Regions from separate parts of the Homo sapiens genome. Here regions 2, 3 and 4 are each linked to region 1. Evidence: fine-mapped expression QTL. A gene starts in region 1. Each other region holds a variant in brackets. All regions are shown on one strand. Distances are from middle to middle. Region 1 holds the start of RETREG1 (reticulophagy regulator 1). Region 2 overlaps RETREG1 (reticulophagy regulator 1). Region 3 overlaps RETREG1 (reticulophagy regulator 1). Region 4 has its middle 41 kb from the start of RETREG1.

Evidence for each region. PIP is the estimated chance that this variant, and not a neighbour inherited with it, causes the effect.
Region 2: its variant is fine-mapped to the expression of RETREG1 in whole blood (INTERVAL, PIP above 0.99).
Region 3: its variant is fine-mapped to the expression of RETREG1 in whole blood (INTERVAL, PIP 0.96).
Region 4: its variant is fine-mapped to the expression of RETREG1 in whole blood (TOPMed, PIP 0.97).

What each region holds. Positions count from the first base shown.
Region 1 is chr5:16,613,141-16,621,248 of GRCh38, forward strand. It overlaps RETREG1 (reticulophagy regulator 1), which reads right to left and starts at 3,857. Exons shown (of 9, transcript NM_001034850.3): 1 at 3,512-3,857. The coding sequence starts at 3,831. RETREG1-AS1 (RETREG1 antisense RNA 1) reads left to right here and starts at 2,786. Exons shown (of 4, transcript NR_109946.1): 1 at 2,786-3,346. RefSeq lists a silencer at 3,611-4,100.
Region 2 is chr5:16,593,103-16,601,210 of GRCh38, forward strand. The region is part of intron 1 of RETREG1 (reticulophagy regulator 1); the gene reads right to left. Among named protein-coding and RNA genes, the nearest start is that of RETREG1-AS1, 19 kb to the right of the region's middle. The variant T/C (reference allele first, on the strand shown) is at 3,055.
Region 3 is chr5:16,488,526-16,496,633 of GRCh38, forward strand. All of the region lies in intron 3 of RETREG1 (reticulophagy regulator 1), which reads right to left. Among named protein-coding and RNA genes, the nearest start is that of ZNF622, 27 kb to the left of the region's middle. The variant C/T (reference allele first, on the strand shown) is at 4,651.
Region 4 is chr5:16,653,726-16,661,833 of GRCh38, forward strand. No RefSeq gene overlaps it. Among named protein-coding and RNA genes, the nearest start is that of RETREG1, 41 kb to the left of the region's middle. RefSeq lists a silencer at 2,835-3,129. The variant GTGGCTAAGCA/G (reference allele first, on the strand shown) is at 3,749.

The sequences.
Region 1 (8,108 bases):
AACACACAACATAGCATCTGAGGCAACTACTGCCCCCACAAACCACCTAGCCAACCTTATCTCCCACTACATTTTCTACCAGCCCATGCTGCCATTGCATCTGTTTACTGTGTAGTGGTTGAAATATTAGGTACACCTTCAAGATGCTATTGTGTTCATTGTATTCCTCAGGGTTAGAATGCTCTTGATCATCTACTAGATCTCCCAAATCATTCTTATCCACTGAGGTTTAAGCATGATCTCCTTATTAAGAACCCCACAATCTCTTCCATCCACAATACCACGTTCCCCAAAACCATATCAAAATGAATTATCCTTTCCTGAATCTTCCACCACACTTAATTCATGCAACTTTTAGTTATACCCATTGGTTACGGCTGTGTCACAATTTTTGCCCAAAATCTTGCAGATAATGGGCAGGTAATAAATGTTGAAGCTTTTGAGTCAAATTCAGACTCCTAAAACCCACTGCTAATGCCAGGTGCTAAATCATTCAAAAATATATCTTTAAAAAGTTTACTTCCACAAAAATGAAATACATCAATTAAAGTGAAAACAACATCCCATTGCTTAAGACAGATTTGGTTGGGTTCCCCACAGTTTTAAAATTGATCTTTTTTTCTCATAGAAAATACAGTGCTTTAGAGTTCCCAAGACACAGAAGGTTAGAGTATCACATAATTTAAGATCATTTGAGAAGAAATACATTATTTAAAGAAAACGTAATGTCCTTGAAAATCATTTTAACCCCCAGAGCAACAAATAAAAGGGAAAAAAAAACAAAATTTTAATGACATTAATAAATGGGTCATAAATTCCAATGAATTATAATGCAAAAGCAACAAGTAATTCTGAACTTAAAGAACAGGACAGTCATTTTTGTCAAAGAAAATACATGCATGGAATGCAGATGCCACAAACAGGAGATGAAATAAAACAGATAAGGAGAAGGCTGTATCTAGGCTGAATGGCTGGCCAATGTTTTCCTCTCCGTCAGTATAAATAAAATGGATGGAAGAAAACACCCCTGGATACTATCAAATATGCCTTTCAATTATTTTATGCAAAAACATTATTTTCAATAGGTGTCATTAAAGAAAACATCATAGAAAAAAGTTTGCAACTCATGTTACAGAAATTAGGCTAAAGTCTTTAATATAAAAACAGCTCCTATAAATCAATAAGGAAAAGAACACTGGCCTACTTGAAAAAATAGACAAAGGTTATTTATAAACAAACAATGCTGATAAATGGTAAATGTGGTAGTTCTTAAACATAAGATAAAATGCTCAATCACAGAGAACTGCAAAATAAAATCATTTTGGGATAGTCTTTTTCACCTATCAGATTTGCAGGATCAAAAAGTTTCATAAAATATTCTTCGCAAGAGTGTGGCAAAGCAGGCAGTCATACACATTGCTGGTGGGAGTATAAATTGTTAGAACCCTAAGGAGCTGCATGCAATATGGTGACAGCCATCAAAATTACAAGTGCACATGCCCTCTGACCCAGCAATTCCACTTCTGGGAAGTTCTCTAAAATACTTGCATATATGCAAAATGATGCATGTACAGGGTCATTAGCTATAATGCTGAAATAGCAAAAGCTTGGAAACATTACTGCCTCAGTAGGAGACAGGTTAAGTAATTTGAGACATCCTTACAATAGAATTCTGAAGCAGCTGAAAAAGAACAAGGAAGCAATCACCAAGAAATACTAGGAAAAGGAAGAGCTCATATGTTATTCCACAATTTGCATAGAATATGGTGTATTTGCTGAAATGTGCACTATCTGGAAAGAGACACAGGAAACTAGCAACATTGCTGGCCTCCGTGAGGAAACTGGGCGGCCAGGGACTGGGATGAGAAAGAGATTTTCAAAATGCTTACCCTTTTGTACCTTTAAACTTTTGCACTGTGAGACTGTATTAGTTTTTTAAAGAAATAAAATTTAAAATTAAGAAATAAAATGTTAAGGCCGGGCGCAGTAGCTCACGCTTGTAATCCCAGCACTTTGGGAGGCCGAGGCGGACGGATCACGAGGTCAGGAGATCGAGACCATCCTGGCTAACACGGTGAAACCCCGTCTCTACTAAAAAAAATACAAAAAACTGGCCAGGCGTGGTGGCGGGCGCCTGTAGTCCCAGCTACTCGGGAGGCTGAGGCAGGAGAATGGCGTGAACCCGGGAGGCAGAGCTTGCAGCGAGCCGAGATCGCGCCACTGCACTCCAGCCTGGGCGACAGAGTGAGACTCCATCTCAAAAAAAAAAAAAAAAGAAAGAAAGAAAGAAAAGAAAAAGAAATAAAATGTTAAAAACATCGTAAACATTAGTGAGACACAGCCCTAAGACTATTAGACTATTGCCCAATCTAGCATAAGACAATATGTCCTTCTTATTTGAGTGCTCGCATTCACTCCATAATAAGATAGATTTGGAATAAACTCTATTCCAAACACAGATACCTAAGAGATCCAAAGTTAATTCACTTTCAGGGACCTCCGACAAGATACAGCTAGTTTTAAGAGAAAACACCAGGACTAGCAGAGATCTGAGGAAAATATTCATCTTGCTCAAGTTAACCTAGAAAATGACAGGCTGTCTATTTTGTGCAATTTATTTATTTCTCAACTTTAAGGTTCAGAAATCTCTGTCCTGTAACAAGGTATCTGTTACCGGAGTCTGATTATTCTGCACTGTGTAGGTCATGTTTGTTATGAGGACACTTAGCAAACAAAGAAGGTTTTTCTCCGCCCTCAATAGCGTGGTAACGGATGACAGGACACCACTTTCAACGAAGGAGACAGACATTTCCCTGGCCTTTCTGAAGAGCGCTTTTTGGAGAGACAAACCTGTTGCTCAGGGGCTGAGCATTCCCGTGTGTTCTCCCTGTACTTCACCTAAAAATATGCCTGTTTTCCACACTGTGCACACCCGGGGGTGGGTGCTGGGCATACTCCACCTGCTTGTTTGCCTCCCGTTTTCTCATCAGGGAGTAAACACAGTAAACCTAACGCTCCAGGGGAAGGAAAAAACAAATCATTCAGGGCCCATCTCAGGTGACTGATGAATGCGGCACCGTTTTGAACGGGTACCTAATCTGGTCCAGATATGCCTGCTGGGGCTGCAAGAACCAAGACACGTTCAAGCACGTTTGCTCCGGCAAGCTTGGGCGAGCAGGTCAAGACCTCAGAGTTTTAGAAAGCAGGGGCGAAGTTTTCAAGCACGATGGGAACACCTGTAGGTGCAGGTGCCTGAGGGTCGGCCGACCACCTCGCATCTGAGGCTGGATCCGCACACGGAGAACGACAACTGCTCACAGGGACGTGCGTCCGGAGGAAAGTTGCGGTGAGTGTCTACCTGTTCGAGACAGGTGGCCGAGAAAGTGGGGCAGGGCTGACAATTCTTCCTCCGCAGTGTCCCGCGGGCTCCCCCTGCACTGGGTCCCCGGGGCCCCGGGCGCCCCAAGGTCACCTGCCCTCCTCAGCGCCCCCACCTTGCCCAAGCTCTCACCAGAACAGCAGGTTGGCAGCGACGAAGCCGAGCAGGCTCCGCAGCGGCCTCTTCCAGCTCAGCAGCTCGTCGGCGCGGCAGCCCAGCCACAGCACCGGCTCCCCGAGCAGCCAGGTTACCGCGGCCGCCGCCCGGCCCGCGGCCTCCTCCACCTGCAACCCCGCGCCCTCCGCCGCCCCAGCTTCCTGCGCTTCCTCCTCCTGCTGCTGCCGCTCTGCGGGGGATGCCTGGGGCGGTGGCGGCGACGGCGGCGCCTGCTCCTCGGCGGCAGGAGCCGGGCATCCCTCCTCGGCGTGCTCCGGAGGCGCCGGGCTCGCCATCTTCAGCTGTGCTTCCAGACAGGGACGGGGCCGGGCGCGCGCGCGGGCGCGCCTGGGTGTGGGTGCCGCCGAGGGCGGGGCGGCGGTGGCGGCAGGTCCCGGAGCGGGGCGCGCACCGCGGGGCACAGGCGGCTGGGGGCCTTGTGACGCCACAGGCCACGGAGGGGGAGCCGCCCGGGAAAGTGGGTGCGGCCGAGTTCGCGCAGGGGCGGGGCCGGGCGCCGGGAGCTGGGCGGTGTCCCCGGGGGGCTCTGGGTTCCTGGAGGGCCTCTCCGGGACTCGAGGAAAACGACCTTTTCCCTTGCAGCGGCGGGAGAGGGCGAAGTGGAGGACTGCTGCTCGGTTCCGTATCCAAAAGAGACCCAAGGCTCCAGGCAAAATAGATTGGACATTTTCACTTTCTCAAGCCAGGGCCACCGGTCGCCCAACCAGCAGCCACTGAGGGTGGTATCGGGGCGCCCCTTCCCCTGGCAGCGTATTTCAGCCCCCAGAGACATCCCCCACCTCGGCCATCCCCAGCGCCTTTGCAGGGACAGCAGCACAACCATAGCAGAGGTCCTGGGCATCCTGGAAATAACGTGCTGGTATAAATGTTGGATTGAGAAAGGAAGAAAAAACATTTGGGGTCAATTTGGGGCCCTCTCGTTTGACACGGGAGGAAACACAAGGCCGCAGCGTTGGGGGAAGCTGCTTCCTTTCTCTCTCTTCTTTCTCTCTGTCTCAGGTGCTTCCTTTCTCTTCTCTGTCTCTCTCTCTCTCTCTGCCTCTCCCTCTCTCTCCCCCGTCTCTCCCCCTATCTTCCCCTCTCTCCTCCTATCTCCCCCTCTCTCCCCCTCCTTGTGGCTAGGTGATCTGGCTCAGAAGTGCACGTTGGCCCGCGCGTGCGGGGAGCTGAGAAGCAAGAGATTGGAACTTTGCACGTGTCAAGCAAGGTTTGGCCTGCTTTGAAGACAGTAATTTCAGAGCCACTCCGGTCTCTGCGTCACAAGCGGGCATCAGGGCAGTGGTGGGGCGGCAGGGGATCCTGAGACCTCCCATGCCCTCTCTTTGGCCCCGGTGCTTCTGGGTGAGTGTGGGGAGAGAGGAAAATAGTTGTTTATGCTTTTCACCATTTGCATTTTTAAATTTTTGTCTTCTTTAATCTTCCTGGTCTTACTTTTACTCTAGAATGACAGGTCCTTCCCCCCCATACTAAGGGTTCTGTCTGCGGATGCATCAGGGCATCTCATATCCCTTTACTGGCAACCAGCCTGCCTGCACAGGATGGAAGGGAGGGCAATTAAATTCCCTGCGTCAAGGGAGTCTCTAGGGGAATGTTCTGTAACGCTCCTCTGGGTGGCCATTGTAAACCTCTGTGTATACACACGTGGAATCCATTGATCTGTACATTCACTGCAGGTGTCTGCACTTTACTGCTTGTATGTTGTACTTCAAAGGAGTTATATTCCCAGAGCCCAGGCAAAGGCTTACTGAGCACCTACCGAGTACACAAAGCATTGCTAAGCTCTGTGGATGCAGCTTCCACCCACAGGAAGCTCCCAGTCTGATGAGGGCCCAGTTACAATTGTGATATCTGCCACAGCGAAGAAGCCTTCGCTAAGTGCTAAGAGATTCCTTACTTAAACTGTGCATCCAAAATTAGGGGAGGAGTGGAGGGATCAGGTTTCAAGAGCGTTTTGTAATAAATGGCCTCTGCCCTAAATTGTAGGGCCCCCATTAGTGTGGGGATTGGGGACAGGGGCAATAACTGCTGTTGGGAATTCAACAGGAGAGGAGGCATGGGGTTGCAGGTGGAGACGCACAGTTCCTTAAGTAACTCACCAAAGGGAATAGTGGACATTGAATGGTCTCTAGTAACAGGAGGCTTGGTTTTTAACTAAAGGTGATACAGAACATCTGGCATTTCCGACTCCCCTTCTTAGGAGTATCCTGACAACCCGATGGAAAGTGGCCTGGGTGTCAAGGAAAAAGCAACGTGGAAACAATTCAGGTTTCTTCCATATAAGAGAGACAATCTTTTCCCAGGTGTGGGTCCTCCCTCTTGGCAGTAGCGGAGAAGTTTTTGAAAGATAAATGATGCTTTTATTGTGTCATTTGGCCTTTGTTTGGCGCTTGATACAGCCCAGGGTTTGCTATTCTAAAATCTGTCACTAGACAGATGTGTGCTGCAGCCAGTGTGGAGAACATGGGGCAGGAGAGAGGAAGAACCAGGTGTCCCCGTTCCCCAGACCAGTGCTGATGTGCTACCAGAAATGGGTTTGCAAGATTAATCACCTTCCTCCTGCTTCCCTTGAATTCTAATTATTGTTGTCAGGATCTGTTGAAGTAGTAAAAGCTGCTGGCAACCAAGACACATAAAAGCTAAGCTCCAGTTGCTGTGTGTGGTTTCCAACACTTATTTATTATCTCTGTTTAATAATAAACCTCCTTCCCCACAGCTATGTGTTGTAAAGTCTATCCTTTCTCTCTCTCTCAAAATTACTATGGAGAAAATGCTATGCAACCTGTTTTGCATAAAAGGCTGGGCTAATTAACCTTTCCTTTTCACCTCCGACCTCTAATACTTACAAACTGTATGACAGAAGTAGACACTGGCATAGACATACAAATGGTGCTGCTGGGTGGGATTTTGTTGTTGTTTTGTTGTTTGTCTAATGATCTTTGTGATGCTTGAGTAATTTATTCAGGGCTAAGATTACAGAAACATAATGCTAACAATGGTTGAAATCAACCTTGTCCCCTAGTTTTAAGAACACGCCACATTCTTGAACTCCTGCAAGTAATCTTACTAAGATTCTCTTCTGAAATTTTATTGCTATATATTAGGAACAGAGTGATTAACACTAGTGAGCTAGATGATTTGACAATATATATCTGAGAAAAGGAAACTGGAAACGTGTCTGAGAAAAAAAAAAGTTCTAGCTACTGAATGAGAGTTTAGAAAATGAGACAGCTCCAGTAAAGAAAGTCCAAATGCACATAAGAACTCTCTAACAGAGGCCACTCACTTTTCTCATCTAAGAGTATGTGGAAAGCTTGTAATAGGAGAGGAAAAATTATGAATAATTAATTCCCACTATAGGAAGTCTCCTAGGGCAAAATCAAGCTAAGACTTAGAATGATGGGGAAAAGCCCCCTAGTCATAATATTTTGGGGAAATTTCTTTTCTCTACAATATTATATATTAGAATCTTACAGTAGCTCCATGATTCCTTAAACAAAAGGAGGCTCGTTGATATGGTTTGGCTCTGTGTCCCCACCCACATCTCACCTTGAATTGTAATAATCCCCACGTGTCAAGGGTGGGACCAGGTGTAGGTAATTGAATCATGGGTGCGGTTTCCCCCATGCTGTTCTCGTGATATTGAGTGCTTGCAAGATCTGATGGCTTTATAAGGGGGCTTCTCCCTTCACTCAGCACTCATTCTCTCTCCTGCCACCCTGTGAAGAGATGCCTTCCGCCGTGATTGTAAGTTTCCTGAGACCTTCCCAGCCATGCGGAACTGTGAGTCAATTAAACCTCTTTTCTTTATAAATTACCCACTCTCAAGTGTTTCCTCATAGCAGCATGAGAATGAACTAATACACTTGTGTATATGTTGTATCGTTTATTAGCCTGCAGATAGAATTTTTTTTGTGTTGGTACTTTTATTAAACTAATTCTACCCTCCTCCCCTTGCTATATCCTCTGCTCCTTATTCCTAAGTTTCCATAATTTTCTTCTCACTAAGAAAACCTGGATAGTTCACTCTAAGCACAGATAAATAAGAGTATCATACAGCATCAGCAGGCACAGAGCAATTGGAAAGGAAGGAAGATCATCTCCCGGGTCTCTAACCTGGCTTCCAAGGCCCAGCCCAGTGCCTGGCTCACAGAAGGAATTCACTATTTCTACTTATGTTGAATGTCTGTTGTGCATATACAGACGGAAATATTCAAACTAGCATAGTCTGTGTTTGACAAGCATTCCATAAGGGATGTGCTTACCAGAAAGATGGTGGCCAAGATGTTGGCCACCCAGATATCAGTTGGGGTATTGCTCCCTAATACCTAAAAGAAGTTTTTTTTTTAAGGCTTCAAAATGGTTAACTGAAAAGAACGGAGGTCACATGACAACATGAGTATATCCCCCAAGGAAGCCTACCTGTCTATCCCCAGGTACACACACAAACACACGCACACCTATGATCCACAGGGGTGACTGCAGGACATTAACTTCCAACCCCTTCCCAACAGGAATCTGAACCAGCAGACAAAGCACTGTCGGGTCCTTGCTG
Region 2 (8,108 bases), 20 kb before region 1:
GCAAAGGCACAACAGTGAACCCCTGACTCACCATCCCATGCCCAGTGGTCACACTCAGCAAGGAAAACTCCACCCAGTCTCCTTAGCAGCCTGCTGTTAAATTAGGTCACCCCACTGCTCCCCCGGAGTGATGTGTTTTCCTTTCAGAGCACGCCTTCTGACTCCCACTTGTATGCTGGTTTGCTTGGCCATTTGTTTCCCATCTGTCTGTCCTTCCCTACCCCATACTACAAGCTCTGTGAGAGAAGGGACCATCTCTCCTGTTCACCACTGTCACCCAAGCACTAGGTCTCTGCATGCCAATCACAGGCACTCAATAAATACTTTTTTGTTTGCTGTTGCTCATTCAGTATTTGTTGTACAAATGATTCAATTAATGTAATTAATTAACCATGCATGTAATCAATGTAATCATTAATCATAAATTCCTTAAAGCACATTATCATAATAATGACAGCTTGCCAAATTGGGGGAAAAAAAAAACTATGGGGAACATTAAAATGTCTATACCATTTTTATTAAAGACCCTTTGGGAAGCATCAGATAACATGAATGGCCCTTGGATATCTGCTTAGACAAATCTTATTTCTTCTCTTTCAGAAGACCTGGCCTCTGATAACCAAGAGAAGTAAATCTAGCTCTCCTAATTTGCCCCATACTAAAGTCATGTTGCAATGGTGTGGCTGAGGTCAAAGAGAATGGTGCTCTGCTGACTCATGTGTCCCTATCACCAGAGGAGCTGCAGCAGATGCACCTCCGTCAAATCTAAGCAGCCATGTTTACTGTGAAAGCCACACCAAATCCGAATACAACGAATGTCTGGCCTTCTTTCTAGACACCTGGTAGTTCCAACAAAAAGCCAAAGATCATCACTGACATTCTGGGGATGGTAGCCCATGATTGGTTCTTTGGCCAACACCCACTGTTTTTCAATGTCACAGGCCCACAGCAAAATGTATTAGATCACAGTCTCACAATCTTAAGATACAACTTGTCTGTACCAGGCAAAACCTACACACAGCAGAGATTTGATGGGCACCATCGGAAACAAAAGCTGGCATGTACACAGAATTAAACTTCTCAGTCATACAGTGCATCGATGTACAAGGGTGCTGAACCTTTTGGCTGTATTCAGTGATACGATTAAGAATCAAAATTTCTCCTGATGCCCAACTTTCATTTTGATAAATGAAAGCTACAAGTTCTAAGTGTATTAGAATAGATTTTTAAATGTGACTGAATGAAAATGAGCCAAACGTGAAATGTCATTGTTAAATATCTTTAAATATGTAGACAACTTTTATAAGAAAAAAAGTTAAACGCTTAACATAGCATTTTTCAGTTGGGCGTGGTGGCTCACACCTATAATCCGTGCACTTTGAGAGGCTGAGGCGGGTGGATCACCTGAACTCAGGAGATCAAGACCAGCCTCACCAACATGGCAAAACCCCATCTCTACTAAAAATACAAAAATTAGCTGGGCGTGGTGGCGCATGTCTGTAGTCCCAGATACTCGGGAGGCTGAGGCAGGAAAATCGCTTGAATCCAGGAGGCGGAGACTGCAGTAAGCCAAGATTGCACCACTGCACTCCAGCCTGGGCAACAGAGCAAGACTCCAAAAAAAACAAAAAACAAAACACAACCACACAAAGCATTTTTCATAGACTACCATCACAAACTGGCTAAAAGTCTCTCACTAAAGGTTTCTGATGTGACAGATGACATAATGATGCAAGGTGTTGTTTTCAATTTATCCAGAAGGTATTTGGAAGTTAAATTCAGAAGGTATGCCAGGAAGACATACATTCATTTCTAAAACAATGAAGAAAGAGATGAAGTAAGGTTTCCAGACTGCAGTGAATATCCCAAGATATACCCATCCAGGTTACAGAAACTCAGTTGCAAGAGAGTTTCATATAATATCCTTCCTTCAGCTTATGAGCCATTTTCTCCATGTGCAAAGATGGTATTTGGATCTATGCAACTCATAAGTAACTGAGCCCCAGACCAGAAACCATGAAGCCATTTCCTGACTCATGGTGAGAGTCCCGTCAGGATGGCGGTCATGCGCAGTCTTGTACACGAGGCCCCCTAAACCTTGCTGTTCTAATAGACCCCTTTAATAGTCCTTGTTTTTATATTTTGTTTTTATTTCACCAGAAAGATCTTTTTTTTAAGCACCGAGTGCATGTATGTTTTGTTTGTAGGCACCCTGTATTATGTTTAATAGCTACAGAAGAGCTTAATTAAAAGAGGTCAACAGCTCTTTCAGAGAGAATTTATTAACCAAAAAAGTCACTGAGTTGTGTTATGATTACTAATATAACTACCATATTAAAGTGACCATGTCCATTTTAACAGGTCTTGGTGTTGTTTTAGCAGACACAAGTAATAACTTGTTAGTTACGAGCATACAACAAAATGTTTCCTTGGAATAGTAAATGCATTTTCAACTGCCAAAAATTCTTCCTATGAAAAGTTTTCTGGAAGGAGTTACTCTCGTCATTAAGAAGGCTACACTACCATTAGCTGAATGTTAAACACCTGTTTCAAGTAGATGTGATCAAATACAAGCTATTACTACTAAGAGCAAGAGGAAGCCCTTGACTGCCTCCTTATATCAAAGTGACTTTTAGCAAACCCGGGCTCATTTGTCAGGGGGGCAAGAAAGGATGGTGAAGTCTGAGACAACGGCCTGAATCTCACAGCTAAGAGCTTTTTAGGGTCCTGGAAGATTACGAGGAGATCTGTCAATACTCCAGACCCTCAAAAGACCCCAAAGACATGGTTGGGCCAATACAGTAAAGTTCCCACACTGACCTGCAAAATATAATTAGTGATTCTCACACTAGGGAACATTATTATTTTGCCTTCCTAAGTTTCATCATGTTCACTGTCTCAACACTTAGTGCATGTAGTTTAAAAAAGAGGTCAGGAGACTCTGATATGGGTCATAATGTCACCAGCTGAGGGACCTTGGGACTTAGTTTCTTCATCTGTAACACGAGGTGGTTAAACTGGAGCAAAGATTTCCTCTCCTTTCATTTCATCATA[T/C]GGATGCCTTCTTTTGAAAGGTTTTAACTGCCAATGAAACAAATAATATGGTTTACTAGGTCAGAGCTGGTGCAACTTGATCATAGAAATAATTATCTTCCATGATGCGTTTGAAATACTGAAAACAGACTAGTGCCTTCAAAGAACTGGGCAGCTCTGGGATATGATTTCAATATGATTCTTTTGCTGAAATCTGCCACTCCAGAGGCACATTTCTTTCCCTGCTACGCAGACTGGCAAAACACATGCAAAAGCTGCCAGAGTGGCTTTTTGGAAGCTGACAAGGGGAAACTGGCACCCATGTAGCATTAAGCATTACGCTCGAAGCCAAACCTAAAATGTAAGCAGTAGTGACGCTCTCAACTCAATGCATCCTGGTCAATCACAGACTAGAATATTTGTTTTGAAAGTTGTCCTGCTGAGACCAAAGTATGAATTCTCTTTTCATTCAGTTAAGCACAGCCTATTCTAGGATCCGGCAGTTCCCACAAAGCCAGGCCAATTACCTGGCCTGACACGCACCCTCCAGGGCAAAACTCAGCAAAGCCCACAACATCCAGCCAGGCAACCTCACTGCAACTCCAGGGAATGCCACTCACGCTGTTTTCTGTGTGAGTGCCTGGAGACACGTGACAAAGAAGCCCTGTGTCACACCTAAAGAATGGTCCAACTAGAGAATGGACCACAAAAATCTTATGCAGCTTCTATACGCAAGCAGATGTTGGGCCTTGGAAGTACAAAAGGCAAAAAGAAATGCTTTAAGCTTGCCCTGAAGATCTAAAGCATGAGAAACAATAGGACAGGAGTCTGGCTGATTCTCTGCTTACCTATGTACTAGAAGTCATCAGTCAATAGTTAGACTACTGACATTTGTCAGACAACAGAAAAATGCATCTACACCAAAGGACGTGGAAAGAATCCTGAAGAAGTAGGCTGGCAAATGCATATAATGGGCAAAATAACCCAGCAAGTAGAGGATAAACTACAATTAGGCCACCCAGGTGTAAAACAGTTGCAACCACACAAGTGTGGCTGTGTGCCCCTGGCAAGTCACCTGACTTCTCTGTGCCTCAGTGTCATTGTGAATATTAGTAACGACACCTACCTCCTCCAACAGTTGTTATGTATATGGAGTAAGAGACACTACAGGTGAACGGCCTAAAATATCTGACACGGGATAAGTGCTCCACACCCATTAGTTCTGAATTGTAACATTATCCTTATTCACTGATTTGTCACTGTACCTTCATCATTAAATCCAAAAGCATCATAAATCTTAACCCCTAACCTTGGTGCCACAAAAAGCACATTGCCTTTCTCTGCTGGACTCTGAGTACCCTTGGGGAGTCCAGGAGTCTCTCTCAGGATGGCATTCTGCACTGGGCAAGGCCCCACACTCAGCCTGAAGTCAGCCACACCTCCAGAACCCTCCCAGGGAGAAGGGCACTTCCAACCTGCACTGCCCTTGGTCCTCCCCCACCCACAAGAGTGACCCCACCAGTGGCTTCCTATAGAAAACAGACTTCCCCTTGCTGCCCCACTCTCAGCCTCCAACATGTCTCCCACATGCCCCTCCTCACTGCCCCTCAAGTGCTTTCTACAAAGAACCAATCACATCAGTGCCAGGGGTTGTTTGTAATGGCCCGTCAGTTCTCCAGGCCTGAAAGAGGTCCCAGTCCTGGAACTAGTACCTAAGCCCCTGAAGATCTGGACCTGCTTCCTTTCCAGCCTCACCTCCTGTGACCGCTGGCACGACTTCCTTGCCCCAGGGGTAAGGAACTACACTGGAGGGAACTGGGCAGCCCCTGCTTCTGACTGCACTCAGGATGAAACCCAAACCCCTCCACTCCAGTTCCAGGCTCTTCACCGTGCCCTACCTCCTGCCCTGCCTCACCCCCTCCCCTTCCATCTCCCCACCTCCCGACCACACGGAACTCTGTGCACATTTTTGGCAGTCCACACTCCTCCCTCTGGACTTTCACACATGCTGCTCCCTTGGGCTTGGAACAAATCCTTCCCCTGCACACCCCAGCAACCTGGCCAACGCCTACTGACTCTCTACGTCCAGCTAAAATGTCACTTCTTCTAGGTCTTTCCAGACTACAACCACCATGGCTGCCCTTCCTACATACCGCTAGCATGGCACTTAAAAGAATGTGCTGGAAAGGATATCTGACCTGAGTTTCTTCCCCACATTGTGAGTTCCATGAGGGAAGAAGACACCGTGTCCCCAGTGTCTAGCACAGTGATTCTACCTACCATGTTCTCAGTGAGTATTTGCTAATGAAACAAACCAGGGCCGTGTTACTCACTGTCACCCTCGGAGCCTTTGTGACTCCTTCAGCCTGGAAGGCTCTGCTTACGTTGATTCACCCAAACCACTTCTACTTAGCATTCACAACTCACAAAAGTGTGACCTCCCTGCAGTCACCAGATTTGGAGGACTTCTGTTCCTTCCCATAGTAGCAGCAGCCTGGATACCTGTTACTCATATTTGTCATACCAAACTAGTTGCTGCTTTCCATGTCATCTCTCCCAAGAGATTTTAAACACTAAGAACCACCTTTAACCATCCTTTATAACCATCCTTTGTAAGTGATGGACCCCACCAAGATCTTGGAGGACCACTACAGTTAAAGTTCAATGTCAGATCAAGGTAGGCTGAAGACACCTACGATTTAGAGTTTGATACTGGGGCATTTCATTCACAAATCATGCTCTATTTGTTTAAATGTTACAGGCTGGGTACAGTGGCTCATGCTCACCATCCTAGCACTTTGGGAAGCTGAGGTGGGAGGATCACTTGAGAGGTGGGAGGATCACTATGTTACCCAGGCTGGCTCAATCAGGAGTTGAGTGAGACCCCAGAGTGCGTCCCCATCTCTACAAAAAATTTTAAAAATTAGCTGAGTGTGGTGGCACAGACCTGTAGTCCCAGCTACTCAGGAGGCTGATGGGCGAGGGCTGCTTGAGCCCGGAAGTGGAGGTTGCAGTGAGCCAAGATCACACCACTGCACTCCGGCCTGGGCAACAGAGCAGCACCCTGTCTCAATAAAAAGGAAAAAATAAGTAAATTTTTTACAAATAAAAAGAAATGCTGTAATGAAATGCCATTCTCATGCTTTAGTGAGACTAGCTAGAACCAAATATACTCCATTCACTAATATTCTAATCAGTAAACTTTTCAAAATCTAGACACATATTACTACTCAGTAATAAATTATCATCACGCCAATTTTTAATTTAAAATCTATAAAGTGCTGCACTTGGATTGGATAGGAATTATCACAACCACACAGTATTTTGGAAAAGAAATGGGAAAAGAGAAATTCTTCTTCTCAAGGGAGGTGAGCAGAGAACTTGGATACCTTGCCCAAAAGTATGGGAATCATGAGGAAGTGGATGAAAAAGCAGAGGGTGTCACTAAAGTTTTACCCATTCAATTACTGAGCACCTACCATATACCACGGTGCTGGGATACATGCCTGAAGCAACAGACTGCTCTCTGCTCTGCTGGAAGCAGCATTCAGGTAGGGAGGCCAGCCCTGTGGTCAGGCATGGCACACTGAACATGCATATCTTTCTCCTCTTCCTCCCCAAACCACGCCAGAATCAAAAGTAAAAATACTGACAAAGATATGCATGCATGAGGCTAAAAGCAAGCAGGAAAGGAGACAACAGTGGGGATATCAACAAACATCTGGAAGATGGAAAGCAAGCTCCAGGGTGATAACTGAGCGAGCAGCAGAAAGAGCGCTGGGAATTGCAAGGGTGCAAGGGTAAGGCCCCCAAAAGCACGTCCCCCTGAGCTGCAGGTCCCAGGAAAGCGTGGGGGTGGAAGGAACTGGGAGAAGGCAGGGGCGAGGACAGGTGTGAAGATGTCACCCAGGCTGGAGTGCAGTGGCGTGACCTCGGCTCACTGCAACCTCCACCTCCCATGTTCAAGCGATTCTCCTGCCTCAGCCTCCTGAGCAGCTGGGATTACAGGTGCAGACCACCAAGCCCGGCTAATTTTTGTGTTTTTAGTAGAGACAGGGTTTCGCCATGTTGGCCAGGCTGGTCCTGAACTCCTGACCTCAGGTGATCCACCCACCTCAGCCTCCCAAAGTGCTGGGATTACAGGCGTTAGCCACTGTGCCCAGCCTACAAATCTGTATGATGAACAGTTAGAACTTCAGATCTTACTACCCACCCAGCAAGGTCAGGAGAGAGGACCTCTCCTCCACCCCGACAGAAGTAGGAGGTTGTTCTCTGAAAAAATTAAAGTGGAAGGGCTTCAGACCCCGGGGGTAACAGGACAGAAGAGAGCAGGGCAGAGGAACCACGCTGAGAACAGGGAGCTGATGCCAGGCACATTCTGATGGGGACCCCCACGTGTTCATCATCTCCCTGGCACAGCTCCCAGAACACTCGGAGTCAGGCTTCCCCTCCCTGCCCCGCCCCCACAGGAGAGGTCAGCATGCTGATGACCCACAGTGAACGCTGTGAAGTGGCCACTCCTCAGCCCAGCACACTGCGCTCAGCCTTGGAGCCCTTTACTGTGAAACAGGAAGAGGAAATCTGAGGACCCCTTAGATATTTCAGGAAAGCCTTCAACACCTAACAGACACAAAATACACAGAAATAAGGAACTCAGAACACACACAAGAAAACCTCGAATAAACTATCTTCTCCTTTTTATTAAAGAAGAGAAAAATCTAAGAATCAAAACAAACGCATCTAAAAGGAAAAAAAATCAAAAATGAGGAAAATGTCTTGGAACAAAAAATGAGACCAGAAATTTTAAATCAGTAGAATGCAAAAGATACAAGAAGCTTTCTGAAAGCAGAACAGAAGACAGAGATGAAAATAGAAAAACTGAGAAAATCAGGAGCAATCCAAGAAGTCTGACGTTTGACCAGTAAGATCTCCAGAAAAAGAAGAAAACAGGCTGGGTGTGGTGGCTCACATCTGTAATCTCAGTGACTCAGGAGGTGGAGGCCAGAGGATTGCTTGAGGCCGGGAGTTAGAGACCAGCCTGGTCAACACAGCAAGATCCCATCTTAACAAAAATT
Region 3 (8,108 bases), 120 kb before region 1:
GAGGTCTGATGTGGGGGATTCCTGGAGTCTTCAGCTGAGGCTTTGCTGGCACAGGCGTGTGAGGAGCCCGGAGGCCAGGAAAGAGCCATCAGAAAGGACTAGAAGGAACAGTGTCTTTGGCCAAGAATGACACCTAGTCCCACCAACTAGACCGAAAAACTTCAAAATTCACAGACATGGGTAGAATACTCAGAAGGGTCTTGCCTCAGTAGCAGAGAATAATCAGTCCTAAACTAAATGCGGCTCTGGTCCTAACAAGTCTTAAAAGCAGACCTTAGGCCGGGCGTGGTGGCTCACGCCTATAATCCCAGCACTTTGGGAGGCCGAGGTGGGCAGATCATGAGATCAGGAGATCGAGACCATCTTGCCCAACACGGTGAAACCCCATCGCTACTAAAAGTACAAAAATTAGCCAGGCCTGGTGGCATGCGCCTGTAGTCCCAGCTACTCAGGAGGCTGAGGCAGGAGAATCACTTGAACCCAGGAGGCAGGGGCTGCAATGAGCCGAGATAGCGCCACTGCACTCCAGCCTGGGCAACAGAGCGAGATTCTGTCTCAAAAAAAAAAAAAAAAAAAAAAAAAAAAAAAAAGCAGACCTTAAAAGGATCAAACTGATTTTAAGTGATTCAACCGCCAACTGTAGGATACAAAGTGGTGAGTTTTGTTATGAACAAAATAACTCAGTCAAACTGGGATGTGAAGCAGTTCACTTATTTTACTTTTATGTGTATCTTTTAAATTATCATGTACCTTTGTTCCCTTAAAAAATATAGTTATCAAAACAATGTTTAAATATTATAAGATTTGTCTTTGTGTAGTTTAATGCCTGCATAATGGAATTTCTAATGCACTTGGCTGGCAGTTTCAGAATGCAGCACACAGTATTCTCCATTAGGGGGTTCTGTAAGACTAAGAAATAGGACACTCTTGTGCTCTTTAAAAATAGATTGTAATTCTGTAAGACAGAACATGTGCTAGCAGCCTGTTTCATCCCTTTCACCAATAGTATCTTTGAGCACTAGAAAAAATAATGCTGCAACAAAATGAATCTTGGCATAGAAGAAATACTATCTCATTATCATTTAACTTCTGTTCGTTTTAATAAATATGCAGTGAATGTACATTAACTGTCACCATTCCTGGCTCTGGGACTGAGGGTTGACTAAGGCACAGCCTGTAACCAATAAGTTAAAGTGTACATGTGACCCAAGAATGATGCAAAGCCTACACACACTGGTGATACATGAAACTCACCTTTAAAAAATGGCATTTAATTGTATCTAGGGCTATTGGAGATACATGAATTTGAAAACTATGTTGGGGATTGGATATATGAGGAGAGCTTGTTAAATGTAAGATCTTTTCACTATTGTACATTTTACAGGACAATGTTTTAGCATATACTAATGAACTTAAAAGTGTTTTTACAACTCAGTTATTTTTGAAAGCAAAAAATTATATTTTTAATATATCAAAGCTAAAATATTTTCACATATTTCTTGAGCTTTAGATTTGAGGAGATAATTACCAACCAGAGATAGGAAACCTGGAGTAGATGGAAAAAGAGAGGGAGGGAGAAAGTATATGGGAGGCAGGGAGAGAATATGAATGAATCCTGATAGTCAGGTTTGAGTTCTTGGGTCCTGTTGGGCCCAAAAGGCAAGGTGCAAAGCAAATCCACCCATGGACATCCCCCATAATTGGAGCCAGTTCCCTTGTGCCTTAAGCTGGTTTCTGGCATTTGTAAAACAAAATAAAGTGTCCCATGTTTCAGTGGGAGCAATGGAAAATTGTTTAAAATATCTTAAATTATGAATAAACGTAACTATTAAAAAAGAGTTATAAGATTACACAGATTACTATGACAGTTTTATTTAGGTGGCAATTTGTAGTAGAAAGGAAAGATGCAATTAGGTTATATAATAAATCAAGCAAAGGCAGTTTGTTAACAATTCAAATAAAGGGGGTTACAGGCACCATAAAAAAGAATAGCTAACACTCACCAGGGGTCAGGTAGTGAACAGCATCTTATAAACTTACTATCTTATAAACTTACTACTTACTTCAATCCTTACAACCAACCTGTGAGTGAACTACTGTTTATTATTCCTGTTCAACAGATTGAGAAAGTTGAGGCCCAGATACATTAGCTATCTTGTTCAAGGTCACAGAATGAATCCACAATGGAATAGGGAAGTAATGCATAGAACTGGGAATGCTCCTAATGTGGGGCGAGATACAGAAAAAACACTCTCCGGATTGGAACATGGGGACCATTGCAAAGATGAGTAGGGAAGCACATTAGGGCAGTGCCACAGGCAGGATTATGGATCCCTAAATGCCAAGCTACACAAATAGAAATCAAAATAGTTAAAAAGCGGCTTTGGTTCCCAGGTGAAACTCCTTGGTCCTAAGGCATCTAGATTCTTATTTTCTCTCTGAACCCCTCCAGCTGTTCCTAAATTAGTACCCACAAAGTGATTCCATAATCATGAACCCAACTTCACAAACTTCAATTACAACACGTGCCCATAATAACCATGACCATGGCAACTATCTGCTAAGCTCTCCCTGTGTGCCAGGCACTATGTTAAGCACTCTGCCCGCACTGTCCCAATGTCCTCCACATGATCCCCCTAGGACCCCATCCCATTACGATACCCTGCAAGGCAGGGTTATCTCCATTTTACCCAAGAGAAAACTGAGGCTGAAAAGGGCTTGAAACACAGCAGATCTCCTGGTTACCGACCACGACCGTCGCATCTGGTAACGTTCTTTCAGGGCAACTATGAATTGCAATTAATTTATGACATTTGTAACACTGACTCCCTATGAGACTTTAAATCCCATGAAGGAATTCTTGGACAGTGCTCTGTCTTCAGTAGCTAACAGAGCTTGACATCTATGAGGCACATAAAAATACTGAATGAATATAAACAGTAAACATCCAAAGAAGAAAATATCAAAAATAATTAACAGTGGTTATTTGGTGGCACCATGTTTTTAATTCACTTATCCGAATGTTTCTATACATTACGTGTTGGTAATAATTAGCATGCATTCCCTCATATGTATAAAAATATACAAAATAATAGACAAAAAGTCCTATTAAAAATCTAGAAAACAACTGTCATCTATAGGGAAGAGTTTTGTTTTGTTCTTTCTTGCAAATGGGCAGTTAAAATGCCTTCAAAATTAGCTAATTAGGAAATACGGGCCAGGCACAGTGGCTCACACCTGTAATCCCAGCACTTTGGGAGACAAAGGCGGGAGTATCCCTTGATCCCCAGAGTTCATGACCAGCCTAGACAACATGGCAAGACCCTGTCTCTACGAAAGAAAGGAAAGAAAGGAAGAAAGAAAGAAAGATGCTTCATATATTCCAAGACTTTCTGGAACTGAAAATCGGTATTTCATATGAGATTTCTGCGGGCAAAACTTGAGCCTTAATGTGTGACTTGGGGATCCCTGGATCCATGAGTATCTCCTGCGGGCACTGTTCCCACATGGCCCACCAGCATTTGTGATACCAGTAGAGAACAGAACTGGGCCCTGACGAATATCCAACCTTCACATGAAATATCAGAGAAAAATGACTCCCTTTTTGGTTTTGCTTTTCAAGTTTTTGTAGGGCAACTGCACCCCGCTGGAGAACATTTTCAGACAGTGTTGTCCTCTCTCTCTCTCTCTCTCTCTCTCTCTCTCACACACACACACACACACACACCATTCTTGTTAGGTTTTAACTTTTTCACATCCTTATGAATTTATAGTGCAATAATCATTTCCAAAGATGTTTTGATTTCTGTTATAATACCTCCAGAAAGTATACATTATTTCACACTACTCATTATTTTATTTTCAATTTATAAGAAATGGAAGTTGAAGCCAAACAATATTTTTCAGAAAGTTTGCTAAGTCACCATTCCATATTGACAAACTTAAAAAAAAAAAAAAAGGATTTGTTATAACTCGTCACCTGGCAACCATGACAAACAGCTGCTGCAACCATCACACCTATAAATATGCTTTGGCTTGGAGACCTTTCATTCTCAGCTAGTGACTAAGGGTCTCATGCTCTCTACTGGTAGTGGACATCTGTTGATGCTAATTCCTGTCGAATTTTTCTTAGAAAGGTCAGTCAGTATCTGGTTACAGATTTTAACATTTCTTAGTGTAATGTGTTAGAATTTTTTTTAATCCTGTGGATACTTATTATGTTCCTCTGTGTGTAGGTGCTTGCATATGACTGTATGTAGGCAGAGAAACAAAATAAAAACAGATATATTTCTCTGCATGAGCACTCACTGAATTAGAACCATGACAACGCAAATAAGATTTGTCAACTAGAGGATTAAAAAGAGTAAACACAAGATTAAGAAATTACATCGCACTCAACTTGAAGCGTTCACTTTCTCAGGCCAATTAGCCACGTGAGCGACTCCTCCCAAGGCCAGGGACCAGAAGGCGCCAGTGAGTGCTGGCTTTTTCTGCCTGGAGAAGCTTTCTGCCCGGAGAGCCCCATCTTCCTCAGAGCAACTTAGTGTTCTATTTGGGGCTCTCCCTTTTTTTATATCAAGTTTAAAACGACTCAGAGATCAGCTACTTACTTTTGCGATTGACCCTTTCCACCTCCTATCTCAAACTGAG[C/T]ACTGCTACTTCTCCAGGTGATCATCAATTATCCAATCCACCTAGATCATTTGGGAGGCTGACACTCAACTACCCATCATAGTATTTATTACAGTTTCAAGTTTCTATGAACAAGATGCCAAGTATAAGTCATTTTTCAGCGTTTTTAATTTTAACATTTTAATAACTAGACTTTCATAAGCCCAGGGCATGAGTAATGCAAATTCCATTACTAGCATAGGACAAGCACCTACTTGAGACCTGCAGGAGATTCAACACCCTTTCATTTGTGAATGCCAAGATTTGCTTCAATCACTGTCCCTGAGGGCAGAAAATATTTCTACTTTATCCCTGAAGGACAGATAATATCAGATAGTCAAGAAACACTCCTCAAGGAAAACAAAACTGTTATTGTGAAGCAGGCTGGCTCATTTAGATATAAGTCTTTTCTTGCATTCCACTGAAGATCCACAATTTCTGATGAATTTCAACCCAGGGTTTACTGTAGTTGGAGTCAAAAGTAAATGTCCCTTCCCTGCATTGCAACATTTGGCCTACTTATATGAAACCTGTGAGGATACTAAAAAATATGTTTCCTACAGCACAAAAAAAAAAGTCATTAACAATATTGTTCCTAATTTTGCTTTTTAGAGATGGTACCCACCACACTGGTCCTGAGCACCAGGTATATACAACTCAAACACTGAATTCTCAAGTTTCTCCAAAGTGCTTTTATTATGAAGGCCAATTCAAATTATTTTTGTTTGTAGAATCAGCCTTTGTAATAAAAAGCAATAACCTGGAAGATGGCAAACTTGGAGTGACTATCGCACATTAAGATATTCAGTCAAGATGCTAGGCTGTTTAATTAGGTCATATTCCCAACTTAGTCCTTTAAAGAGTGTATCTCTCATTTATGTTCACATAAATAATCAGAGGCTTTTAAAGGAATACACTCTTACTAAGAGAATCAGACCCTTATCAGTCACAGAAAAAAATGACAATGCTTGCTAAACTTGCCCTCAGTCTCCCTCAATAGCAGATTTTGAGAATAAGCTATTATGTAAATAGTACATGTATTAATGGTAAATTAATAAATATAATATTCAACAACAGTATGCAGGGAAGATGGGTATGGGTATGAACCTGGGATTATAGATGACACAAAAAAAATGGTAGAAAGTTAATGACATGGTTTGAATCTGTGTCCCCACCAAATCTCATGTCAAATTGTAGTCCCAAGTGTTGGAGGTGGGGCCTGATGGGAGGTGGTTGAATCGGGGGCAGACTCTCATGAATGGTTTAGCACCATCCCCTTGGTGCTGTGCTCATGATGGTGAGTGAGTTCTCAAGAGATATGGTTGTTTAAAGAACGTGTGGCACCGCCCCCCTGCTCTCTCTTACTCCTGCTCTGGCCATGTAAGATGTGCCTTGCTTCTTCTTTGCCTTCTGCCATGATTGGCAGCTTCCTTAGGCCTCCCCGGAAGCAGAAGCCACTTTGCTTCCTGTAGAGCCTGCAGAACCATGAGCCAATTAAAACTCTTTTCCTTATAGATTACCCAGTCTCTGGTATTTCTTTATAGCAGTGCAAGAACAGACTAATAGAGAAAATTGGTACTGAAGAGTGGGGGCATTGCTGTAAAGATAAATAAAAATGTGGAAGCAGCTTTGAGACTGGGTAATAGGCAGAAGTTGGAAGAGTTTGGAGAGCTCAAAAGAAGACAGATGGATGAAGGAAAATTTGGAACATCCTAGAGACTTGAATGGTGGTGACCAAAATGCTGGTAGTAATATGGAAAATGAAGACTAGGCTGATGAGGTCTCAGAAGGAAATGAGTATCTTATTGGGAACTGGAGCAAAGGTCACTTTTACTATGTCTTAAGCAAGGCAACTGGCTGCATTGTGCCCCTGCCCTGTGAAACTCTGAACTTAAAGAGTGATGATTTAGGTATCTGGTGGAAGAAATTTCTAAGCAGCAAGGTGTTCAAGATGTAGCCTGGCTGCTTCTAAAAACCTATGCTTATATGTGTGAGCAAAGAAATGATGTGAAACTTGAACTTACATTTAAAAGGAAAACAGACCATAAAAGTTTGAAAAATTTGCAGCCTGGCCATGTGGTAGAAAAGAAAAGCCCATTTTTAGGGGAGGAATTCAAGCAGGTTGCAGATATTTGCATAAGTAAAAAGGAGCCAAGTGCAAATAGCCAAGTCAATGAAAAGCCCCATTGTCAAAGGCATTTCAGAGACCATCTAGCAACCCCTCCCATCACAGGCCCAGAGGCCTAGGATGACATAATGGTTTTTGTGAGCCAGGCCCAGGCCACCTCTTCCCTGAACAGCCTTGGGACACTGCTCCCTATGTCCCAGTCACTCCAGCTCCAGCTATGGCTCAAAGAGGCCAAGGTACAGCTCGGGCTGCTGCTTCAGAGGGTGCAAGCCATAAGCCTTGGTGGCTTCCATGTGGTGTTAACCCCACCCCTACTAAAAATACAAAAAATTGGCCAGGCATGGTGGCAGGTGCCTGTAGTCCCAGCTACTCGGGAGGCTGAGGCAGGAGAATGGCATGAACCCAGGAGGCAGAGCTTGCAGTGAGCCGAGATTGCACCACTGCACTCCAGCCTGGGCGACAGAGCGAGACTCTGTCTCAAAAAAAAAAAATAGATGAGTATGAATATTCTTAGACTCAGGGTATAAGTTGAGTGCTGACTGGGGACTAACAAACCTAGCAGTCCACCCCTGTGGTATTCGATTCAATCCAATAAATCTTCACTTAGGTGCGGGGACTGAGGGGGTTATCAAATTGCCAATTGATTTAGGGCTTCAAATAAATTGATGTATTAGGCATGATTTCTAGTTTTATTTATTTAAAAAAGGAGCAAGGATTTAATGACAGAAGTCAAACCCAAGTAAAGGATCATTCTAAATTTTTCTGCTCATCCCCCCAAACCTTTTTAGTTTTGTCCACACTTAAAAAAAAAAGTAGTATTAGCAACTTACTCTTACTCTCTCCAATGCATTTGACTTAATTTTCATAAACAGTTATATGTATTACAATATAGGTTTTCCTATCATATCAAATGTCAAAGCAACAGTGGTCTAAACAAGAGAGCAGTTCATTTCTCCCTTATGTCACAGCAGAGCATAGAAGTCCCAGGCTGATATGGGACATCCATAATGTTGGAGACCCAGGCCCTTTCCATCTCATTGCTCAGACACTGTCAAATCACACTGCCACCCCATGGACCTTGCCCCATCCACATTGCCACCAGCAGGAAGGGGTAAAAAGAAGCTGAGATAATTCCCCTTTCTCTTTAAAGTCATGGCCTGCAAGTTGCCTGTGCAACTTCCATTCACCTCCCACTGGCTGGAACATAGAAACATGGCCATGCCTACCTGCAAGAGAGCCTAGGAAACATAGTTCAATTGCTGGTGGCCACCACCCAGCTGAAACTCAGAATTCCATTACCCAAAAAAGAAAG
Region 4 (8,108 bases), 41 kb after region 1:
CCTTGCATCCCAGGGATGAAGCCCACTTGATCGTGGTGGATAAGCTTTTCGATGTGCTGCTGTATTTGGTTTGCCAGTATTTTATTGAGGATTTTTGCATCGATGTTCATCAGGGATATTGGTCTAAAATTCTCTTTTGGTTGTGTCTCTGCCAGGCTTTGGTATCGGATGATGCTGGCCTCATAAAATGAGTTAGGGAGGATTCCCACTTTTTCTATTGATTGGAATAGTTTCAGAAGGAATGGTACCAGCTCCTCCTTGTACCTCTGGTAGAATTCGGCTGTGAATCCATCTGGTCCTGGACTTTTTTTGGTTGGTAAGCTATTAATTATTGCTTCAATTTCAGAGCCTGTTATTGGTCTATTCAGAGATTCAACTTCTTCCTGGTTTAGTCTTGGGAGAGTGTATGTGTCAAGGAATTTATCCATTTCTTCTAGATTTTCTACTTTATTTGCGTAGAGGTGTTTATAGTATTCTCTGATGGTAGTTTGTATTTCTGTGGAATCGGTGGTGATATCCCCTTTATCATTTTTTATTGTGTCTATTTGATTCTTCTCTCTTTTCTTATTAGTCTTGCTAGTGGTCTATCAATTTTGTTGATCTTTTCAAAAAACCAGCTCCTGGATTCATTGATTTTTTTTTTTTTTTTGAAGGGTTTTTTGTGTCTCTATTTCCTTCAGTTCTTCTCTGATCTTAGTTATTTCTTGCCTTCTGCTAGCTTTTGAATGTGTTTGCTCTTGCTTCTCTAGTTCTTTTAATTGTGATGTTAGGGTGTCCATTTTAGATCTTTCCTGCTTTCTCTTGTGGACATTTAGTGCTATAAATTTCCCTCTACACACTGCTTTGAATGTGTCTCATAGATTCTGGTATGTTGTATCTTTGTTCTTGTTGGTTTCAAAGAACATCTTTATTTCTGCCTTCATTTCTTTATGTACCCAGTGGTCATTCAGGAGCAGGTTGTTCAGTTTCCATGTAGTTGAGCGGTTTTGAGTGAGTTTTAAAATCCAACGTGATCAGCCAATAAGCTAGGGGCTTCATCATATCAGCTGTGAATAATAACAGTTGTATATCTTTTCCATTTCTTTCTTTTCTTCCTCTTTCTGGCTTGCTGAAGTGGCTGGAACCTCCTCAGTGAGCATAGCATGTCTCTATTCCGCTTGGCATCAGACGAGGCAGCTTGAAGGCTGGAGACTGGAATCATGTTAAGAGCCTTGTGGTTGGTACCTGGAAGACTTAAATAGATGGGGGTTGGCACAGCTGGGAATCCTTGGGTATCTTTCTCTTCACCATGGTGGCTTTAGGGCTCCAAAAGCACATGTCCCAAGGGAGAAGGAGACACAAGCAAAAGTTATGGTGTCACCGTCTATGACTTGGCTTTGTGAGTCACACAGTATTTTTCCTGTCACCTTCTATTTGTCAGAAGTGAGTAAACTAGGGCTGCCCCATATTCAAGGAGGGGACAATTAGACTCCACCTTTTCGTGGGAGGAGTATCACAGAATTTGTGGATGTATTTTAAAAGCAGCACAATTGATGTTCTAGCCCAAATTATTTACATGTTTCCTTCATGCAAAATACACTTGCTTCATCCCAGGACTTGCAAAGTTGTATCTATTAAGAGATCAGGTTTAGGTTTGAGGCCCAGGGTCTTGTCATCTAAATCATGTTCCCACATGGGTGAGGCTCCTTGCGGGTAGTTCCTCGAGTGTAGATCATGGAAGATCATTTTCTTGATCTGAAGATCTATGTACTAAGGAGACAAGTCTTCTGTCCTGCTGATGCCACATGCAGTGGTGGGTCTGGCATAAGATAACTGCTATAGACACTCTAACTCACACAGTGGGGAGAAAGAAGCACACAGAACTCCTTGGTCCATGGCACTTCTGAAATCCAGCTGGACACACATGGCTAGTGCCTTGATGAAGGCTCAGTTCCAGCAGCTGGGAAACTGGGAATCATCCTCCATGGTTTCTTGGATATATCCTCTGAGTCAACTTTTCTTTTTCTATAAAATGTAGCCATGTTTGCAGCAGATTAGATTTTTCAGTCTGTGTCCTGCCTGTCAAAATTTTGTTCCATATAATCCTCTTACAACATTTTGGGTTTACTATGTAACCTACTGGAATTCACTCCATTAAACAAAAGCCTCATCTATGTATCTCAAGATAAGTCTTTCTACACTGGGATCCCTGAAAGGTGACTCTGGAATAATTCATTTAAGATTCTTGGCCAGGCATGGTGGCTCATGCCTGTAATCCCAGCACTTTGGGAGACTGAGGCAGGTGGATCACCTGAGGTCAGGAGTTCAAGACCAGCCTGGCCAACATAGTGAAACCCCGTCTCTACTAAAAATAAAAAAATTAGCCAGTCATGGTGGCATGCATCTGTGGTCCCAACTACTCAGGAGGCTGAGGTGGGAGAATCGCTTGAACCTGGGAGGCGGAGGTTGTGGGGAGCCCAGATTGTGCCACTACACTCCAGCCTGGGCAACACAGCAAGACTCTGCCTTAAAAAAAAAAAAAAGATTCTTAGAAGCCCAAGTTGTGTGGTGGAAAGGATCTACCCTGATGATCTCTAGAGAACTTTGATTTTAATTCTAAGAACGTCACATAGAGTTTTACAATTGCACCTTTGGGTTCATCTTTAGACTATGTTGTCCTGACAGTGCCCTGAATTTGATATCTTCCAGAAACCATTTCTTAATTTTAGCAATCACTATGTCAATTGGAGAAACTAAGAATGAAAATCAGTTTTATTTTCAACTCAGAAAGTCCTGGCTCCTTTATATTTAACAGTTCTTTCTTTAGCTTGCTTTAGCTTGTCTATTTTTTTATAGCAAAAAGAAACTGGGTGGTACTTTCAACACACTCTCTGGAAATCTCCTTAGCTGGAACATTTAGCTCATTAGGTGCTTTTTCTATTTCCCACATTGCCACAGGCAACGGTGTTACTAAACTTCCTGCTGTTGCATCACGAAGGTTTTCTTTTTCCAGCTTCCAATAATATTTTCCTCACTTTCCTGTAAGTCCTCACCAGCAATCCTCCAGAGGGTCATCAAGCCTCTGCTAATGATTTCTTTGAAGTCCTTGATGCTTCACTAACATGTTTCTTAAGTCCAGCTTCTTCCCACTGCTCAGTCCCAAAGCCACATGCTTTAGGTTTGGTTATGGCAGCACCTCATGTTTAGAGTGCCAAAATATGTCCAGTTCTCTACAGTTGTGAAACTAACCACCACTGAACTTAGTGATCATTTTAAACAAGTTATTTTGCTCATGAAACTGCAATTTGGACAGATCTTAGCAGGGAGAACTTAGCTCTGCTCCCCTCAGCTTGAGCTGGGGTAATTCAAAGCTAAGGGCTGGAATAATCTAGAGACTCACTGACTTATCTTATGGCTGAGGTTGGGAAGACAAACAGCTGAGGTATGGTACCTCTGGGGTGTGTCAAGCTTTCCTCTCTGTGTGGCCTCCTTAACATAGTCTATTTGGCATGGCATCTTTTGGCTAGGGAGACTTCTTACATGTCAGAGAAACAGTAAGTAAAGATGTACCACTTTTTATGACCTAGGCTTGTAAGTCATGCAGTATCATTTCTTCCACATTCTCCTCATTAGAAGTGAATCACTATGGCTGACCCATATTCATAAGAATTAGACTTCACCTTTTTATGGGAGAGGTAACAAGAAGTTGCAGTATGTTTTAAAATGGCCACACACACTAAGCTGCACATGAGGCTGGGAAATGTATTCT[GTGGCTAAGCA/G]TGCATTGCAAGCCAAAACGTAGGGGAATTCTGTTACTAAAAGGTAAAAGGAGAGAAAGGCCAGATTACTGGGTGTTAGTTAGCAGTCTCTGTCACAGGCAGCTTTGTATAGAAATTAAAACCTGAACCAAGTTATCATGGATGAAGAGAATGTGAATAGGGAGAAAGGTCATTTCAAGCAAGAGAAGAATATGAGCAGAAACTTGGAGAAGGTAATAAGATTGTGGGCATGTGTGTGTTTATGCTGAAAGTACATGTCTAATTAAAGGGAGCTGGTGATCAGATGGTAAATTATGCCACATAGAATGGGTGTGGTCCTATCAGGAGGCCAGTGAAAAATAGAGAAACTGCTTGGATTTGGCATAGTTTTGTGATGAAACGGCAATGTGTTAGGCCATTTTTCCATTGCCAAATAAATACCTGAGACTGGGTAATTTATAGAGAAAGAAGTTTACTTGGCTCATGGTTCTGCATGCTCTTCAAGCCTGGCACCAGCATCTGCTTGGCTTCTGGAGGGCTCAAGGAGCTTTTACTCACGGTGGAAGGTGGCATGGGAGCAGGCACAGTACATGGCAGAGTGGGAGCAAGGGCAGTCGGGAGGTGCCACACTTTTAGAAACAATCAGATCTCATGAGAACAAACTTGCTATCGTGGCACCAAGCCATGAGGGATCCTCCCCCAGGATCCAAATACCTCTCACCAGGCCCTACCTCCAACCCTGGGGATTACATTTCAACATGGGGGATTTGGAAAGGGACAGATAACCAAAGTATATCAAGTGAGATTTGGAGACGGATGACCCTGGACCTGAATTCCCTGTCCATAATAGTCTTGTGATTTTCAGCAAGTGCTATAGATTACAAAAGTGGCCACAATTCTCCAACTTTTTGTTGAATGACTTTACAGCAACTTCCATAAAGTTATGGAGTCTATTTCCCTGCCTCCTGACAATGCTCTGGCATTATGTCTTGCTTTGACCAGTAGAATGTGGTGGAACGAACAATGTGCCAGTTTTGAATTTTAATCTCAAGAGGACTTGCCTGTTCCCATTCATTTTCTTGGGACCTTGCAAAATGCCCCATAAACTGGCCAAGGCTAGGTAACTGGAGGATGAGCGAACATGTGGAGTGGAGCTCAACTCTCTCATCCAAGGTCCCCAAAATGAGAAAGTTGGACAAGGTTAACTTTGTTCACCTCGCTATAGTTGAACTGAAGAGCCATGAGCGGGCCCAGCAGGGAGAGGCTGCCCAGGTGAGCCAGCTCAAACTGACAACACCTTGAATCATGAGCTAAAGAAGTGGATGTTGGGCTGGGTACGGTGGCTCACGCCTGTAATCCTAGCACTTTGGGAGGCCAAGGCGGGAGGATCACCTGAGGTCAGGAGTGCAGCCTGGCCAATGTGGTGAAACCCCATCTCTACTAAAAATACAAAGAATTAGCTGGGCATGGTGGCACATGCCTGTAATCCCAGCTACTTGGGAGGCTGAGGCAGGAGAATCACTTGAACCTGGGAGGTGAAGGCTGCAGTGAGTCGAGATGTCCCATTGCACTCCAGCCTAGGTGACAAGAGCAAAACTCTGTCTCCAAAAAAAAAAAAAAAAAAAGAAGTGGATGTTATTTTAGCTACTGAAATTGGGGTGATTTGTTACACAGCAAAGCTAACTGTTACAGCAAGTTAAATAAACTCTTTTCTAAATCTCAGTAGCTTCACTAAAATAGATATTAAAATAGATCATAAATAGTGCCTATCTCATGGCAAGGACAAAACCAGACACTTGGTGCCAAGCCTGAAACGTGTGCTGAGCAAATGTTAACTAATGCCATTGATTACATCAAAGAGAGATTATTAACAGAGTAACACAAAGGAAAGAGTGTAAGAAAGAATTACTTTAGAAATCCCCATTCTGCTCATTTTTGCCTCATGACTTTTCGCCATTCTTTGGTTCCACTGCCCTGGCATGTGCTCACTCTGCATACCACAAATCTGCATCTGGGGGCTAAATGTTCTCCCTTCAAAACTTATCTCTTTGAACACTTTCTTTCTGGACCCCTTCAACACAAACCCAGATGGTCCACATACTCTGTTAATTGTCTTATTGCCTTATATATTTATATATTTTACTAACAGCCTCTAAGCAACTTAATAAAGATGGTTGGTGTTGGTCTTTGGGGTTATCTTATCTCCAGTTAAGAGGCCTGTTAAATTTCCTGAATGCCAAGTCATTCAGTGAACTCACAGACAACTATTCCCCCAATAGATGGGATTTGTAGGAATCACTGGGTATTTTCCCCAGCATATCATGAGGGAATGATGAGAACTTGAATGTAACAACTGGTTCCCACCAAGCAAATGTCTGAATACTTTAGAGTCCGTAAATCCTGTTTATGTCTCAAACTGCTTATCAACTGTAACCCAGTTATTACTTGAAAGTAAAAATAGAAGTCCTTGGGAAAACTAAAGATGGAAACAGATGCTATACTACATTTTTAATTTTCCCACCTTAATTACACCCCCTACCAAAACAGGCTGGAGTGCTTAAGGCTTTGTAAGTTTCTTCTTTCTACTTCATTCAGAGGTTGTCTTCTGAACCAGCAAATATCATTTTTAAATTTAAACAAAAGACATCTCTTCTCCATTGTGTTTTGTCGGTGGTGTGCAGGACCTCTGGCTCCTACCGGCTTGCCAGAGGTGACTGTGAGCTGTGTGCATCTCATTCCAACTCCACTTCCAGTGGTGATACCCTGGAGCCTGAAATTGGCCATGGTAGGGTTATTTATTTACACCAGAAAAATCAGCAAATTCTGTGAAGCAGGGTTTTTGTTTTTGTTGTTTTTTTCCCCCAGAGAGCCAGTTGGTAAGCATTTACCAACATATGATGGCCAGATCGCCATGGGCTTAGAAAGTACAGCTTCTGTCACCAGGAAACATTCATCACCTTCGTCATTGCAGAATGCTCTAAGTTGTGAGACTGGTAAAATGGGAACTCAATGAAAGCATGACCAAGACAAATGCTGCTAAGCCACAGCCAGTCCGGCTGGAATATGAGTGAGGTAGAGAGAGGCTTGAGACAAGGCTGGAGGGGCACGCAGAGGCAGAAAACACAGGGCTCGGCCGGGTGCAGTGGCTCACGCCTGTAATCCCAACACTTTGGGAGGCCGAAGCGGGCAGATCACAAGGTCAGTTCGAGACTAGCCTGGCCAACATGGTGAAAACTCATCCCTACTAAAAATACAAAAATGAGCCAGGCATGGTGATGGGCGCCTGTAATCCAGCTACTCGGGAGGCTGAGGTAGGAGAATCACTTGAACCTGGGAGGCAGAGGTTGCAGTGAGCTGAGATTGCTGCACTCCTGAGCGACAGAATTGGACTCTGTCTGGCGGGGCGGGGAGTGGGGGGCGGGGGAAGAAAAACACAGGGCTGTAAAGGAATAAACATTTACGTTTCAGTGGTATAGAAAGTTATGGTTTCACATAGGAAATAAATATATTTGGGTTTATGTTTTCTAAAGATCTCTCTAGGTATCTGGTCTGTGGAGAATAGGATAGACACATGGTGGGAGGGCAAGGGTGGAAGACTAATGAGGACACTATTTTGGATCGGGACAAGGGAGCCACAGCATGGCTTCTGACCCCTGCCTTGCACCTGCCCCATGCCCATCTCCACACCCCACCTGCGCTTGTGCTCCCAGCGCTCTCCACCAGGAATCCCTTCCTCTCCCATCCCAAGTCCTGCCATATTGCAAGGCCAGCTCAAGGTCCACACCCCTCCACCTTGCATCCTCCCCCCCGACCCCCGTCATCCCAGTCACATCAGTCTACCTGCCTTGGCACCTGGAATACTACTTCCTGATTATCACAAGACTTGCTGTGCTACCTTTTGTGGTCATTTCACATTTTATGTGCATTTGTCTGATCTCCATAAGTTGCTTAAAGTTTATTATGGAGATCAGTGGTATGATCTATGGCTAAATTGAGCGCCCAGAACATTCCAAGCAGGCACGATGCTAGATATCTTGGGGCACATAGAGGGAAGATAGAATCTGGTCCCACAGAAGCTTTCATTCATCTGTGGATTTATCAAATACAAAGATAGGTGATGCTAAGCCACTTTGCACTGATAAGGAAATGCAGGGAGGGAGGAGATTCATGCAAAACAGTGGGTAAGAAACACTTAAAGCAACAATCTTAAAACTGGGGACTGTATTCCTTGCATCACACATGGAATCAAAATTCTAACTGTAGCTTTGCTTCTAAAGGAAACATACTTCCATAATTACCTGCAACAGAAGTCAGCACATTCTTTCTATGAAGAACCAGAGAGTAAATATTGTCAGCTTTGTAGGGGGCCTC